4 linked regions of the Homo sapiens genome follow. The protein of the gene in region 3 purifies or fractionates together with the protein of the main gene of each other region. This does not show direct contact. Each region holds a gene or a part of one and is shown on either strand. Other genes may lie near its edges.

Region 1 (3,500 bases), on a different chromosome or scaffold from region 3:
ATTAATGCCAATTTGGAGGGAAATCTTGGTTCTTCTTTGGTTTGTGTGCTGTTCTATGTTTTGATCAAAGGCCAGGACGAAGACCTAGAAGTCATGCTTATCAAAGGAGCTCATGGCAGAGGTAAGAGGAGGGCTACCTGATGGATGGTGAAATTCTGATTCAAAATGATCTTGAGATGTCGAAATGAACAATGCAATCAATAATAGAATTGAATCCAGCTCAACGCTGCACTATGACATTAAGAACCATGCCCCAATCAAGGAAAATAAAGTCTTGTAGCTTGGGAGCAATAAAAATATGGACACAGAAGGTCTGGGGTTGGTGCGGAGGTCCAGAGTCTGTGTGAAAAGACCGGGAATGGATCTAAGAAGTGATGGGAGTAGCCTCCCCACATTAGGAGGGCTGACATGGGAAAGAGGGAGTGAGTTATCCTGCATTGCTCTTGAGGAAAGTACTGGAGCAACTGGGGGGCTTAAGGGAGAAGAAGAGACGTTGTAACATTAAGAGCTGGCTACAGGCCAGATGCGGTGGCTCACGCCTGTAATCCCAGCACTTTGGAAGCCTGAGCCAGGAGGATCACTTGAACTCAGGAGTTCGAGACCAGCCTGTGCAACATGGCGAAACCCTGTCTCGACCAAAAATAGAAAAAAAATTGCCGGGCATGGTAGCGCACATCTGCAGTCCCAGCTACTCCAGAGGCTGAGGTGGGAGTATCGCTTGACCCTGGGCGGCAGAGGTTGCAGTGAGCTGAGATCGCGCCACTGCACTCCACCTTGGGTGAAAAAGTGAGATTCTGTCTCAAGAAAAAAAAAAAAAAAGAGCTGGCTAGAGAACAGAATGAATTATTCTGAAAAGTAGTGAGCCTCTCATCACCTTAGGTATTCAAACAGGGCTAATCAACCATGCAGTGGGAAACCTGACCGGACAGGCTCGGGGGCCCTCCCCACACTCGGTGTCCACCCTACTTGCCACCAATTAGTAACGAGCAGGGAAGGCTTCCTGAAGGAGGTCACATCCGAGCTAGACTGTGAAGATGGAGACAGCTCTGACCCGATCCCGTAGTATGCCCGAAGCCAGCCCCACGTGGCAGCAAGTATGAGAACTGGGTACTTCCCCACAAGGTAAGACAGAAGGTGGAGCTGAGCTTTCTCTATGGATCAGAACTGATATAGCAGGTGACAGGTAGAGGGAGGAGAAATAGAGTGCCAGTGGAGAGCCAGGCACAGAAAATCAGGCCCACAGAGCAAAGACTGGAGGGTCCTGGCCTGAGCAAGGGGAAGGATGGGTGAGAAGGAGAGACCCACCAGGCAGCATCCTGCTGGAGGCGCCTGCATCATTCCTTAATTGTTCCCAGGACTAGAGCCTGTCAGAATCGGGAAGAGCCCTTCAGGAGCCCCTGGCCCAAGCCCTGATGAGACGGATGAGAGCTGAGCGTCAGGCTGAGCAGTTCATCCAAGGGAACCCAGACCTGAGAAGAGCTCCAGTCCCACCTCAGTCCTTGTTAGCTGTGTGACCTTGGGCAAGTTACTTAACCACCCTGTGCCTCAGTTTCCTCATCTGTAAAATAAAGGTGGAGGTAGCCGTAAAAACTAAAAGAGGTGATGTAGGAAAATCACCCAAGAAGAACTAGATAATCAAAATAGACCTACACAGCAAGTGCTATGTGCAAATTAACACTAATTTATAATTATTGGGAGATGCCAGGGAAGGCGGTGAATGCCAGGAGCCCCTTCCTACAGCCGTGCTCCATCAGCGCTCTGGACTTGATACATTTACGGTAGCCAGGTAGGTCGCTGGCACCCATATTGACCCCCACTGTGGGAGAAGTCCCTGAGGTATGGGGACCCGCAGGGGAGGGGGAGGCTCAGAGGCTGAGCCCACACGTACCTTCTCCCCGGGTGTGACAGAGATGCGCCACACGCAGTGCATGTGAGCAGAGTAGCCATTGGGGTATTCAGGGGAGGAGAAGTTGCCTGTGCTGTCTTGCAGGGTCTCTCCACAGGCTGTGAGGAAAGGAAATGACAGGGCAGGGCTGCAGGCGCCAAATCCCCCCATCTTCTGGCTCACCCACCCCTGAACCTTGGCATCCTCTGGGGGAGGGGAGAATGCCTGAGGAGTGGGAGGGTGTCTGCAATGGTCCTGCCCCTATAAGATCCACCCCCCTACCTCACATATAGCACACGCCATCCTACCTCCCAGCCCAGTGCTGCCCTGTTTGTGAAGGCAATATGGGTTCCAGAGCTAAGGTCAAGCTCCCTTGGTGGGGCTCCGTGCCACCTCCCTCTCCTAGGATTGCTGTTCTCCCCACTTCCGCCCCTACAGACCCTCAGAAGGTGGCGGCTCGGCTTCTGACCACCCACCTGAGCCTACCCCCAGCGGCCTCCTTCACTTGGACACTGCCCCTCCTATGGGGTCCCCTCCCCCGCCACACCATTCTCTAAGACTTGCAGCCTAAGCCTTCTTGGTGGCACCAGGCACCTGGCCTCTGCCTCCCTCAGGCCCTGCCCTCCACGCCCTCACCCATCCCTTCTCTGCCCTGACCTGGGCACTTGTAAAGCTTGCGGGCTTGGGCAATGTCCCCCTTGCTGAGCCGTGTCCTTTGGCCAATGGGAGGTTTCACCCCGTTCACCTCATACTTGGGGACAATGGTATCCAGGAAGATGCCCCTGAAGAAGAGGGAGAAAAGTAAGGGTGAGCGTCTCATGGACAGTGGGCAGGGAGTGGGTGGCATGCCCATCTGTACCCACAAGTCACGACCCTGCTGGAGCTCAGACATTCCTCAGCAGGGTCAGGGCCGGGTGGAGTCGTCTCACCCTGTCATTATGCTACCCACTGACCAGCAGCCACCCTGCTCCGTGGCAGCCACACCACAGGAGTCGGGGGAGCCCCAGGAACACTTTGGGAGGTCAGGGATGCAGGTCCAGGGTGCCCTTGGACCCACTGGTGCTCCCAGCTCAGGCTGGCCACAACTCCCAGCCCCAGGAAAGCTACAGGCCCCTAGCGGGTCATCTCTCTCCAGCCCCACTGGGCCCCTGCTTCTGCAGCCCCTCATGCTGCTCCAGCCCTAACTAAACTTCTCCCAGGACTCCCCAGGCCAGCTCCTCACCCTGCTGGCACAGGCTGCATCTGAAAGCACCTGGAACAAGGCCAAAGGCAGATTCCACTGCAGCCAGACCAAGCCCCGGGGACAGCCCCACCAGCTCCCAATCTATCAGTGTCTCCTGTCCTGGCCATTCCTCCCTGCTGAATCCTGGGTGTTTGCACTGGGAGGAGCAGAGTGAAGGGGAGGCAGGCAGCCCTCCACCTCCCCAGGGCCCCTGACTCACACCCAGCTGGGTGGATCGCAGCAGGGGGTGGGGTGGGATGTGGTGGGAAATGTAAGGCCGGGTCTGTGGGTGTGGGGGGCAGAATGACCTCACCACCCTTCCTTGGTCTCTGTTCCTGCAGGTCTGCAGGCAGGAAGAGCAGATCGGGTAGAAGCACTGAGAAGAGGGGGCAG
Region 2 (3,500 bases), on a different chromosome or scaffold from region 3:
TTCAACCAAACTCAGGTGCAAAATATTAAAAAAAAAAAAAAGAAAGAAAGCATCTGTAGTGAACACATACAGGCTTTTCTCTTGTCATTATTCCCTAAACAATATAGTATAACAGATTGGGCCTGTGCTGCTGGGCTGACACCTGTGCTGCCGGCCTCCTCTGAAGGTGCATATCACTCTCCCAAGCTCAGGTCTGCGCATAACAACCCTGGGCTCACACCTCCCACATGTTGTGAATGCCTCCCAGCCCATCCGGGGAGGAGCTCACAGTCAGCAGGGAGTCCTTCCAGATCACCTGCGCGTCCCTCCTCTTCCTTCTTGCCTGGGACCATCAGTCTCCTCGCCCTCTGCTAGCTGACTCGCCATGAGGCTGTCACTTGGCTTTCCTCCTGGCATGTAAACTCCCCAGGGACAGGGCCTGTGGCTGGTCATCTTTGTCACCCTAACCCACACACAGCCCACAGAAGTATCCAGTAAACCATACTGATCAAATCCCAGACTGACTGGTAGATTGGGCCCCTCTGACATGCAAGAGGCAGCCCAAAAGGAGCAGGCGCTCAGCTGCCGCGTGGAACCCCATGCAGAGCCCCAGCTGCCTGGGAGGAGGGCCCAGTACCTTGATGGTTGCCAGACTCAGGAGGCTGCAGGATTTGGGAAGCAGGGAAGTGAGGTGATTCGTGTGGACGATCAGCACCTGTGTGGAGAGATGTGCGGCCATGCTGGGCTGAGGAAGAGCAGCAGGCAGGGCAGGCTAAGGGCGTGGGAGCCAGCCCAGCGCCGTGCCACGCCCCACCATCTTGCTCTCCCAGACACCACCACGGGGATGCGGGTCAGTATCATGAACTCTCCCAATGGGGAATCTAATGCCCTTCCTTAAAACCTGGATCTTCAAGGGTGAAAGAGACCTTAGAGGTCTACATCTTCCTTCCATCTGAGAAGGGATCCCCCTGCAGCCATCCTGATCATAACCTTCCCAGCACCAGCGTCTTCACGTGGAAAATAGAGAATAATAAAGTGCTTGCCTCCCAGGGCTGCCATGATGTTAAATAAAAGCTCATGCGCAAAACTTCCAGGGCTGGCAGAGGGGCCAGGGCTCAGTCCAGGTCATCTACTGCTATTTTTCCTTTTCTTTTTTTTTTTTTTTGAGACCAACTCTTGCTCTGTCGCCCAAGCTGGAGTGCAGTGGTGTGATCTCAGCTCACTGCAACCTCCGCCTCCCAGGTTCAAGCAATTCTCCTGTCTCGCCCTCCCGAGTAGCTGGGACTACAGGCGCATGCCACCACACCCAGCTGATTTTTTTTTTATTTTTGGTAGAGACCGGGTTTCACCATGGTAGCCAGGATGGTCTTGATCTCCTGACCTCGTGATCTGCCCACCTCGGCCTCCCGAAGTGCTGGGATTACAGGCATGAGCCACCGCACCCGGCCAATCTACTGCATTTTTCTTAGGCATTGACTGCGGCCCAACACTTCCAGCACAGACTGGGCGTGGTGGCTCACACCTGTAATCCCAGCACTTTGGCAGGCTAAGGCAGGTGGATCACTTGAGGTCAGGAGTTCGAGACCAGCCTGGCCAACATGGCAAAACCTCATCTCTAAAAATACAAAAATTAGTTGGGCATGGTGGTGGGCGCCTATAATCCCAGCTACTCAGGAGGCTGAGGCAGGAGAATTGCTTGAACCCAGGAGGCGGAGGTTTCAGTGAGCTGAGATTGCACCACTGCACTCCAGCCTGGGTGACAGAGCAGAGCGTCCGTCTTCAAAAAAAAAAAAAAACAAACAAAACTTCCAGCGCCAAGGAGCTCACTACTCTGTTGGCAGGGAACACTTTTTTTTTTTTTTTTTTTTGCATATTCTCATTTAGATACTTCACTTAGAGCGCTTCTACCCATCTGCATTCAAAGCTGCAATGCTCTGCTGAAAAATCATTCACTCCCCTCTGAATCTCCCCTGGGTGACCAGAATAAAAGGCGTGAGTTTCTATTATTACTAACACCGGGGTTCATAAGCCTTTACTACGTGGTAGGCATGTACACTCAGTATATTTCTATCTCTATCTAGCTATCTACCACTCATTTAATTCTCACAATACCTCAGGAAGGAGAACTATGAATGTCTTCATTTCACAGGGGAAGAAACTGAGAAGTAAGAGTTTAAGGAAGTTGCCCAAGTCATGAAGCCAGTGAGGGCAGAGTTAGAATGTGACACAGGAAGGTCCAACCCCAAAGCCTACTCTCCTATCTGTGAAAACACCTGCTGCAGGCCAAGAGCATAAGAAGCAGAGAGAAAGGAGGTGTCTACGCCGGGAAGACAGCTCCTCAAAGTCCCTTGTGGGTTCAAACAAGCAGACATGCAACAAGAAAGTCTCTGAAGATGAAGCTCCATCTTACCTTCTTCTGCAGAACTTTGCATGTTGCAAAAGCTCCAAATGGAATCTAAGATAAGATAAAGAAGAGTAAGTGTCTCCCCTCCTGCCAGTTTTTAGCTTGTTCTCTGAGTGGCATTCACGTGAGGAAGAGACAGGCAGGAGGTGAACAAGGGCAAAACGCCACAGCAGGTGGCAGTGCTGAGCCCAGGGGCAAGGCTGGCAAGCAGTGGTGTTGGGGATGTGGCCAGCCCTTCCCTCGGTCAGCTGGCAGGAGACTGCCCTGCCCCACCCACCCTGTCCCCATTGTGAACCCCTTCAGGGGCTGGAGAATGCCAGGCCCTTCCAGCAATGTAGGAGTCTATGGGTACATTTTCTACCTAGACTCCTTGACTCTTGGAGACTACGTTATATTGAGGCCAAAGGATCATCTTCAATTATTTTGGACGAGAACAAAATCTAAGGAAACATCTCGTGACTAGAGCTTCTGGCCTTTCTAAAGCCCCAGTCCACCTCTGTCTTTCCTAGGGACACAAGATCCAAGAAAACGGGACAGATCCAATTCACAGCCCAACACTATCCTCAGTTTACCTCTGAGAGCTCACATTTAGAGATGTCGAGAATGTCATCTGCCCCAGCTTCTTTTGCCTAAGGATAAAAAGAATTTTTAAAAAGTATTAAGACAAAACACCTTTGCAGAGTGGACAAGCCAGGCAAAGAACATAAATGTAAGCAGCTGCAAAGGACCATAGACACTATCTGGTTCCACTGGTCCATTTGGCAGGTGAACCAATGACCCCTGCTTTCCCAGAGCTTGAGGCCCAGAGGGATGAGGAACTGAAAAGCAATGACAGTGCGCTCAGTCTACAGGGGAGAAGCACCCTTGGCAGGGGGCCTCATCTGTTGGGTCTAAGTCAAATATTTCTTCTGTGGGTGGGGGAGGCAGATGGGAAGGAGCACGGCTTGTTGGGGGCAGTGCGGAGGCCTACTCCATGGGGACCGAGGAGGAGATGGGATAGAGTTAGAGGAAACCCACTTTCCCTCACCAAACACATCTGGTACTCCAGGCGTTTCCGAGCCTCCTCACTGGGTTTCCGCTTCCGGAAGAAGAGCGGCATCCTTCCCTTTTCCCAGAG
Region 3 (5,428 bases):
CACTGCATATATATATTATTTGCTTCTTTAAGGACTCTAAACATATTGAAATGTTGATAGCAGATTAGTTTTTGTATTGGTTGTCAATGCTTTCTGTATATCCTAGACTGGCAGACATTGGTAAAAATATTGAAGTTAGTGAGGCAAGGAAACCCACAATTGGATAGCAAAATACAGATATAAAATATGAGAAGACTGGAATAAAACCTACACTATTCAAGTGAAACTGTATGTGTCAATATGACTAACTTTTCAAGATAGATGAACAATAAATTAATAGATAAATAGATGATTAGGTAGATGAACAGGTAGATGAATAGACAGAGAGATAGATTAAATAAATGAATCAACAGAAATAGATATAGATACATACATACATGCATACAGACATATACAAACAGATACATAGTAGTTATTGGCATAGACAGAGGTATAGGCACAGGAACATTTGTTGACAAGAAAAGGAATGAGAAGCACTGGTCCTCCAACAGTAATGATGACATGTAGTGCCTGGTTTATGTGTGTGTGTGTGTGTGTGTGTGTGCGTGTGTGTGTGTGTGTGTTTATACTAAAGGTAACTAATTCACAGGGCACAGTTAATATTAGGAACAGTGTTTTCATTAGTTTCTAGTTTACCTGCCTTATTCAGTAGCATTTGTAATAATAAATAGCTAAAGTTTTTAAAAGACACACATACCTATTACTTTTCCAAATGAGAAATAGAATACATTTCTGAAAACAAAATAAGAGCTTACTTGAGCAGTTCACTTCTGGATCCCATCTTCCATTTATGCAGACTGTGTGTATCCATCCTTCTTTTCCTCTACATCTGTACCTTATGTTAGAATTATGATCGAATTCCTTCTTGTTTTTTAAATGTTCCTCAAGTATAATTAAATTTGATGATTTGCACTTCTTAAGTTTATCTATTGCTATAAAATAAATATATTTTTATGAAAATTCAAATGATAGGAATCAAACCAACTATTACATAAAAATAGTTATAAAGTAAATAGTATTAGCATGGTAAAATTATGACTTAATCATTATAAATTTCACCAACCAAGTTATTCCTGATCACATTGCATCAAAATGCTATTATGTCAAAATATAAGCCCTGTATTCTGTCGCTGAAATGTTAGAGATACCTATCAGAAGACATTTTATTCTTTGGGAAATACAAAATATCATTGGATATTTCATTGGATAAATAAGTATGATTGGACATTAGGACTCTTAGAATTCAGGACCCAGGAAAACTTTAGGAAAAATCTCAGTTTAGAGAAAAGTGAATGAGGGTCCCCAAGATCCTCCCGGTTAGTCATCAAAGAGGCAAAATGATTTTAAAGATTGTACATCTCAAGTCACACTGTAAGTGAATCACCTTGCCTTCTTGCTGATCAAGACATGAGATTTACAGTGTGAAGTCCGTCAATGAGATTTACGTCCTGACTCAGTCCCTGACTACCTCATGCCACTCAGCTATACCACTGATGTAGAGGGCCTGTGGCCCACCAACCCTGCAGCACATTCACTTATTTTGGCTGATATGGAACAAACTGAAAAATTATCACTTTTGGAAGCTTTAAGAGAGAAAAGAATCCTATGGGAGAGTAGTAAGTAGGTATTTTGTCAACTTTGTTTCTTTGCTTCTCAGTGCCTAAAAAGGAATACCATACAATAACAATAATATTTATATTTTATATAAAACTGTTATAATTTCTCAGTAATTAGTACTCATATTTAATCATATGATAATTTTTTAATATTTTTGTTTTTTAAAGAAAGAGTCTTACTCTGTTGCCCAGGCTGGAATGCACAATAGAGCTCACTGCAATCTCGAATTCCTGGCCTTAAGCAATCATTCCTCCTCAGCCTCCCAAGTAGCTGGATTACAGGCATGCACCACCACACCTTAACTAATTACAAAATTTTTTTTATAGAGATGGGCTTTTGCTATATTGCCCACACTAGTGTCTACCTCCTGGCCTCAAGCAATCTTCTTGCCTTGGCCTCCTGAAGTGTTGAGGTTATAGGCGTGAGCAACCACCCTGGCCTCACATGACAATTTTTGTAAGTAAAATGTTGCTTCACACTTTTAAATATAAACAATACTGTTATCAGACGCAGAAAGATTCATAAAATTATATTACTAGCTTTATTTTTTCTTTCTAGACACATATTGAATTATAAGCAATATGCAAAAGATTGGTCTCATATTGAAGACTGGAAATGTTGAGGCATATCTGTAAATTTCAAAAATATAGTTGCAATTATTGTTGTTACAATAAAAATATTAAACTTTGTTAAATGTTGATTTAAGAAGGGTATTCTCACCCACACACTGGGGAAGTTGGGTCCATACTCCATGAATACACGTAATTGATCTGTGTCCAATCATTGTAAATGATTCTGAGCAATTGAATTCCACTGAATCTCCATAGTAATAAGGAGGGGAAGAAAGCTGGGCCCAGCCATGTTCAAGTTCAGGTATATCTCCACAGGTACTCTCCTCCACTATGTAAATTTTACAAAAAAAGTTTATTGTGAAAACATGATGTATGTGTTTTAGATACAAAATACAAAAGTTTTGACAAGTTTAAATATTAATATTTTATACATTACCAATACACACTGGTAAAGTTGTCCACTCTCCATCAACACATTGAATTTTATTAGGTCCCTTCATTAGAAATCTAGGATTGCAATAATATTCCACCACTTCACTGTGTCCATATTCTTCTTTCGTTTTTTCCTTAACATTCCCATTGAGGAGTTCAGGAGGTGGACCACATGATTGTACTTGCTCTATAGTAGAAATACTATGTAAATAATGGTTAAATTGTCTGTTTTACAATATAAAAATTCAGTAAAATGGAAAGATTTTCTTCTTTTATTCATGTATTCTTCATTATGTAACTTATTATAGCATCCTAAACAATCAAGAATGGTGTTCATATTGTATTACTTATACTAAATTGTCATATTGAAGGTATATTAAAATGTTAAAATATGCTCAGACTTCTAGATATCTTAAAGATGCAAGAAAACCAATTAGCAAATGTGGTTATGAAAATCATGTTAATTTTTACATTTCATGGAAACATTTTATCATAACATTTTGGAAAAATATCATAACTGAGGCAAGCATTTGATCAACATAAAGTTTGACTAATCAATACAAGCAACTGAATTGAATATAAGCTGCTTAAATATTGTTTAGACACACCCGGTGAAACTTAAGTTGCAGCCCACACTATATAAAATGTCCAGAATGGATGTTGACATTTCAAGCAAAATGAAAATTAACAAAGAAATCCCTCCATTGTCAGCCACTAGTATGGTTTAAATGTTTGTCACCTCCAACCCCATGTTGAAACTTCATCCCCAGTGTTTCAGGTGGGGTCTAATGGGAGATGTTTGGATCATGGGTATGGATCTCTCATGAACAGATGAATGCCCCCTCTCAGGGTGAGTTCTCACTCTATTAGCTCCTGGAAGAGCTGGTTCTTAAAAAGAGCCTGTCACTGCCCTGCTCTCTCTCTTGCTTCCTCTCTCATCATGTGTTCTCTGGACACAGTGGCTCCTCTTCCCTTTCTACCAGCATTCTGTGGCTCTCACTGAATGCAGATGCCCGATCTTGAATTTTATAGTCATGAGTATAGTGAGCCAAATAAAACATTTTTACAAATCATCCAGACTCAGTTATTCCTTTATAGAAACATAAACCTAAAGTAGACTAAGACCGACAACACCTGTGTGTCTGGGAATACTTCCAGCACATCGTTCAAGAAACAGTGGAGATTAACTTAAGTGACTGAATCTCAGGTATTCAGTACTCAATACATGTCCTTCACAGGCAAATATTTGACTTAATTCATTAGATTACAGGCAATGGGAGCCCAAACAAAATTAATAAGAAAAAAGTTGGTATTCAAAGTTCTAATTCTTATTTCAGCAATTGTAAGATAAGCATTCACCTTTACATATTGGGAGGTCAGGAGACAATCCAAAGTGGTAGCACTGAACGGAATTAGGTCCAACTATTGTAAATCCTGGTTTGCAGGAGAATTTCAACACCTCTCCAACTTTATACTGGTCTTTCTTGCGATCAGGAACTAAGTGTACATCTATTTTAGGAAGTTCGCATTCTCTTTCTTGAAAAAGGTAAAATAATTTCATGAGAATATATAATTAATCATTGCCAAAGTTAATTTTACATATGCCACAATAAAGTGAGGTTGATATTGGGTCATACAGAGGGGCATCAGATAAATCCTTTTCCCTGTAAAGAATGCTACATATTATGTTTTATATGCTGTCTAAATTGAAATGGAACTTTATTATAAATGTTATGGTATTGAAATATATCTGTTCTAAAAATTAATTTGTAAATTCAACTTATTTACAATGAATCTAGTTTTAATCACTGACATTAATGAAATTTAATATTACTTTTTTTACTCAAAACATGAAATTACTCTCTCATATTAAAAAAGAAAAGTGCATATAGACCAGAATTGGGGCTTTTTGAAAACAAGATGACTGACTAAGGAGTTTGGACACAAGTTCTCCTCAGAAAGAAGAACCAAAGTTACAGGTAAATGATCATAACTTGAAAAATATTTAAGAGAGGGTGCAGGAGCGTCATAGAGAAACCATGGAGAGAAGCCAAAGCATGGAAAAAGACAGAAGCAAGAGCCTGACAAAGGTTGACTAGGACCCTGTGGGACCTCATAGAAAGTGTAGGTAGGAGTCTTCTGGGCTCCCTGCAGCTCACCGTGTGGATCCAAGCCATCAGAGAGCTCTTCTGTCTTCGTGAACACACACACTGGTGTGAGTGGAGATTTGGGAACTTCTTGAGGGCATTACACCAAACTACTAGTTGAATAGGGTCATCTGCCTTCCCCTTGGGCCTGAGCTGCAGTGGTAGGTTTCATGCCTGCAGTGCACTCATGTGGGGACTGTTTCCTACCCAGGAACCTCAGCCCTCTGTCCCCATAACACCAGAGCCGCACAAATATTCCCTGTCACCTGCTTGGATGTGGCAGTCACCCATAGCTGGCTGGACCCAAAGGAGTTACAGCATTCCCAATAGTTTAACCACCAGGGAGGCTATTCCTAATGGAAAGTGCAACAAAGGAACACCCCTTGTGGCAAAGAAGACTGTAGCATTCACTTTCCTGTGTGCAAGAGCAACCTGCTTGTGGGCTGAAAATGACTACGCCACTTCCAGCAGACACGCAGACGCGGTGTTTGGCTCTGCAAGGGAGGAGTATAGATCCATCCCAGGAGCCCAATGGTCCCAGCGCTTGGGCACGGATGTAGAGAGGGGAACATGTCCCGTGGATCCAATTCTGTGTTCATAGCTGTGGTCACTCGCAAAGGAGACTGGTGTAGACACACCAGAGGACGGACATTGTAGGGG
Region 4 (3,500 bases), on a different chromosome or scaffold from region 3:
TTGTAAGTTTCTCTTCTTTCTCCTGTGTTCCTCTCCCAGTTTCTGCCTGGTGTCTGGATGATTAGGCAAGGTTTCCCAGGACCATAAACCTTTATTTACAATGACAATGCTACCAAAATACCACCAAAAAGTCACAAAGCCCCAAATCAAAAAGCAAACAAAAATCCCTCCACAGGTCAAGGCATTCAGAGGTGATCCTGAAGGCCTTTGGAGGGCATAAGTAGGGAGGCAAAAAGCACCAGTGTGCATTCTAGAAACTCCCCCTAGGTAGCCACAGTATGGATTGTGATAGGATTGTCTGAGTGGGCTCAATTTGGGAGGCCACTGCAGTCATCAGAGTGTAAAGGCCTAAAGTGGGGCAGAAGAGGGAAGGATGAAAAGGAGAGGCAGAGTCAAGAACTATTTGGAAGGTAAAACCAGCAGGAGTTGGTAACTAATTAGATGTGAAGGCAGAGAAGTAACAATAATAACTACTAATTAATGATCATAGGGCTTTCCTGCATAATCACATTTAACCCTTGCAATACCCTAGGTGAGGAGTAGTATTACGTCTAAACAAATGAGGAAACAGAGGCACTGTGAGGTTAAGAAAATTGCCCAAGGTCATGTAACAAATATGGTAGACCCTGGCAGACTCCAAATCTGAACAGCTAGCCACTGTGTGACACGGTGAGAAGACTCAAGGATGATCTCTGGGTTTCTCCAGGAAAGGCTGGTGTGTGTGTGATGGTGTCAATAGTGAGTTGCAAAATATAGGAAGAAAGAAGATTTAGAAAGAAGATAGTATTCAGCTCAGTATAACCCCATAGTCCAGAGCAATGGTTAAAGTCAGATAGCACAAGCAAATTACACACTTTGCTAAAAGACGCCCCAATAATTAAATGTTGTTCAATGAAGTGGTAGAAATCAAGAAATGGAAAAGGCTGAGTATGAAGCATGAGACTGTATTCATGCTTAAAGTATATTGTTGACCTTCCTTTTTGAAGATGACTATAATTATCTGCTAGATGATACAAAATAAATTCTCAGCAATTATTAGTTGAGTTGCCATCCCCATAGAAACTAGCAAGTTCTACAAAAGGTAATATTTCTTTAGCTTGCTGCTGTTGGGTTTATCTATCCCTGTCCTTCTCTGAATCTTGTTAATACCAAAAAGGTTTATATAAGAAAATGGTATTATCAAAGACTTGAAAAGTTTTTAAAGTGTTGCCTGGTTAAGGATTCATGAAAATATTGGGTAGCAACATTATACAGTGAAAAATAAACTAGGCTTAGAATAAAAACACTAAGTTTGAATCCTGACTTGAACAATTGTTTTATGACACTGGGCAAGTGATCCATAGATCTCTCTCAGTCTCACTGTCTTCATTTGCAAACTTAGGCCAATGATAACTCACAGACGGTTGTTGCAATTATTAAATAAAATAATGTATGTCTCAGTATTTAGCAGAGCATTAGGTACACTGCAGAAGCTTAATATATTCAAATGTTTTTCCTTCCACCCTTTATGGACAAAAGCCATGTATGTCTTTTAGTTTATACGCTAAAATGTTGTGTGTCAGTTACAATGTTCTGTGCATGATGAATATTTAATAATGTGTATGTTTGTTTTCATTTTAAACACACCTGTGCTATGCAGAATGTGGCTGTGAAATCACAGAGCCTGTACTATTTTGATGCATGTTAAACATTTATACAGTGACAGTTAAGCTTTTGAAAATTCTATTAAGTTTATATGTTCACAAATTCCACCCAAATAAGTCAACAGCAGTAAAAGAAATCTTATCAATGACAAGTAGAGCAGCTTAGTTTGACAAATCAAAGATAAGCTTTACCATCACACTCTCCAACGGAACAGTTAGAGGAAAGAAAACATACTCTCTGCCTTCTGGGATATTTAATTGTACTGATCTTGGCAGCTAACTTGTATCTGTTGTATTTTATTTACAAAACTTTTCACTCTCAAGGGAAGATGTTCTGTGAAGATTAAAGGAACAACTTTGCAACATGTGGCTGGGTCCTCATTCCGTACATTTTCGAGTCCTCCCCTGGAGCTGGCCCCTCTCCCAGCACTCCCAGCTGAGGCCCATTTCATCTGAGGAGCCCCTCTGGGGCCACTGCATGACTTCCCATCTAAGAGAAGCTTCCTCTGCATCCTTCTACATGTTCCATAACCTCCCTGGATCCTTTCAATGTGAAGTCTGAACTTCTATCTGCCAAGAGTAAGGGGAGCCAGCCCCACAACCTATTATAGTTTAGCTCCTAGCCCCAGTCTGCTTACTTCTGGCTCATATAATAGTAATCGATGCATGTGTCTCCCCATTTCTGACTCCATTACCCCCATCCCATATTTTCCCTTCCCTCCCTGTCTCCATTCCCCACATAGCTCCCATGTTTCTTGATCTGTCTGTTCATTCCTCTGTTTCTATACACACACATGCATGTGCACATACTTGTATACACACACCTCAATAACTTATGTACCAGAAACTAAAACAGCAAGTGCCATTTAAAATACCCTATCATGAGTTTAGATTCCCCTCCACTGCTGATTTTTCACTCACCTAGAACCATCTCTGAACCAACAGATTCTTCAGCCAGGTTCCCCGATGGGGTGGGCAAAACATCATCATCAAAGCTGATGAGATCGATGTCCACCAAGGGCTTGCTCTGCAGAACTGGAACTGGGGGGTTGGCTGGGGGCCCTTCTCCCAGTGACTTGTATGCTTTGGCTTGTGATGCCCCTGCGAGTCGGGGAGGAACAGTGACAGGTTTCAGTGGAGCTGAAGGGTAGGTGGGGTTTTCTGAGGAAACAGATTTCTTCAGCAGCAAAGGCCGCGGGGCAGGAGTTGGCACTTTCTTCCCACTATCAGAGCTCTCAGCCAGGGGCCCTCTTCCCGGAATCTCAGGATTAACACTTCGTATAAGGCCAGGGTTTGGTTTCTTTGGCAATTCAGGTTTGGTTACTGGGATGCTTCCCGCTTCTTGCAGGGGAGGGTATGGGGTGAGTCCTTCCTTGGAGGTCACCTTGAGTCTGTTCTCAGTCCCAGAGTCCCACTCTCCAGAAGCTCTGTTAGCAGCTGGTTTGGGAGCTACAGAAGGTTTCCCTGAGGAAACAGTAGGCTTTGGAGGAAGTGAACGTGGAGTAATTTCTGGTTTCTTGGGCAGTCCTGAGGTTTCTATGTTTGTCTGACCCTCAAACACTTTAATTCTGGAAACAATACTATTTTGGCTTTGTTCTGTGTTCATAATGTTCATCACTGCCTGACTGTCTGAGGTGCTAGCGTTGTCCAGCAGAGACTGGGGCCGGCCTGGGGATGACTCCTCTCCTACGGCTGCTGGGCTGATTTTCTGTTGACTTTGCTCTTTAATGTGAGAATCTCTGGGTATTGGTCTGAGGTTGCTTTTTGATCTTGGTTTTGGCACTGGACATCTTGTAGCACTGGGGTTTTCTGGACAATTCGGTTCTTCAGAAATATCAAAGACGATTAAAGGTGCCA

The links. The genes of interacting proteins can lie anywhere in the genome.
Region 1: the proteins of CFH (region 3) and BMP1 purify together in Homo sapiens (affinity purification with mass spectrometry, with the first as the bait; one large-scale study listed by BioGRID). This does not show direct contact.
Region 2: the proteins of CFH (region 3) and LRSAM1 purify together in Homo sapiens (affinity purification with mass spectrometry, with the first as the bait; one large-scale study listed by BioGRID). This does not show direct contact.
Region 4: the proteins of CFH (region 3) and SH3D19 purify together in Homo sapiens (affinity purification with mass spectrometry, with the first as the bait; one large-scale study listed by BioGRID). This does not show direct contact.

The regions. Positions count from the first base shown.
Region 1 is NC_000008.11:22,178,872-22,182,371, reverse strand, and holds part of BMP1 (bone morphogenetic protein 1 isoform 3 precursor), read right to left. Parts: intron 2,668-3,500; coding exon 2,543-2,667; intron 2,005-2,542; coding exon 1,889-2,004; intron 1-1,888. UniProt on the Homo sapiens protein: Metalloprotease that plays key roles in regulating the formation of the extracellular matrix (ECM) via processing of various precursor proteins into mature functional enzymes or structural proteins.
Region 2 is NC_000009.12:127,454,510-127,458,009, reverse strand, and holds part of LRSAM1 (E3 ubiquitin-protein ligase LRSAM1), read right to left. Parts: 5' UTR 3,483-3,500; coding exon 3,411-3,482; intron 3,013-3,410; coding exon 2,956-3,012; intron 2,435-2,955; coding exon 2,390-2,434; intron 695-2,389; coding exon 617-694; intron 1-616.
Region 3 is NC_000001.11:196,723,850-196,729,277, reverse strand, and holds part of CFH (complement factor H isoform a precursor), read right to left. Parts: intron 4,158-5,428; coding exon 3,981-4,157; intron 2,809-3,980; coding exon 2,626-2,808; intron 2,518-2,625; coding exon 2,338-2,517; intron 933-2,337; coding exon 756-932; intron 1-755. UniProt on the Homo sapiens protein: Glycoprotein that plays an essential role in maintaining a well-balanced immune response by modulating complement activation.
Region 4 is NC_000004.12:151,172,106-151,175,605, forward strand, and holds part of SH3D19 (SH3 domain-containing protein 19), read right to left. Parts: coding exon 2,565-3,500; intron 2,007-2,564; exon of another isoform or gene 1-2,006. UniProt on the Homo sapiens protein: May play a role in regulating A disintegrin and metalloproteases (ADAMs) in the signaling of EGFR-ligand shedding. May be involved in suppression of Ras-induced cellular transformation and Ras-mediated activation of ELK1.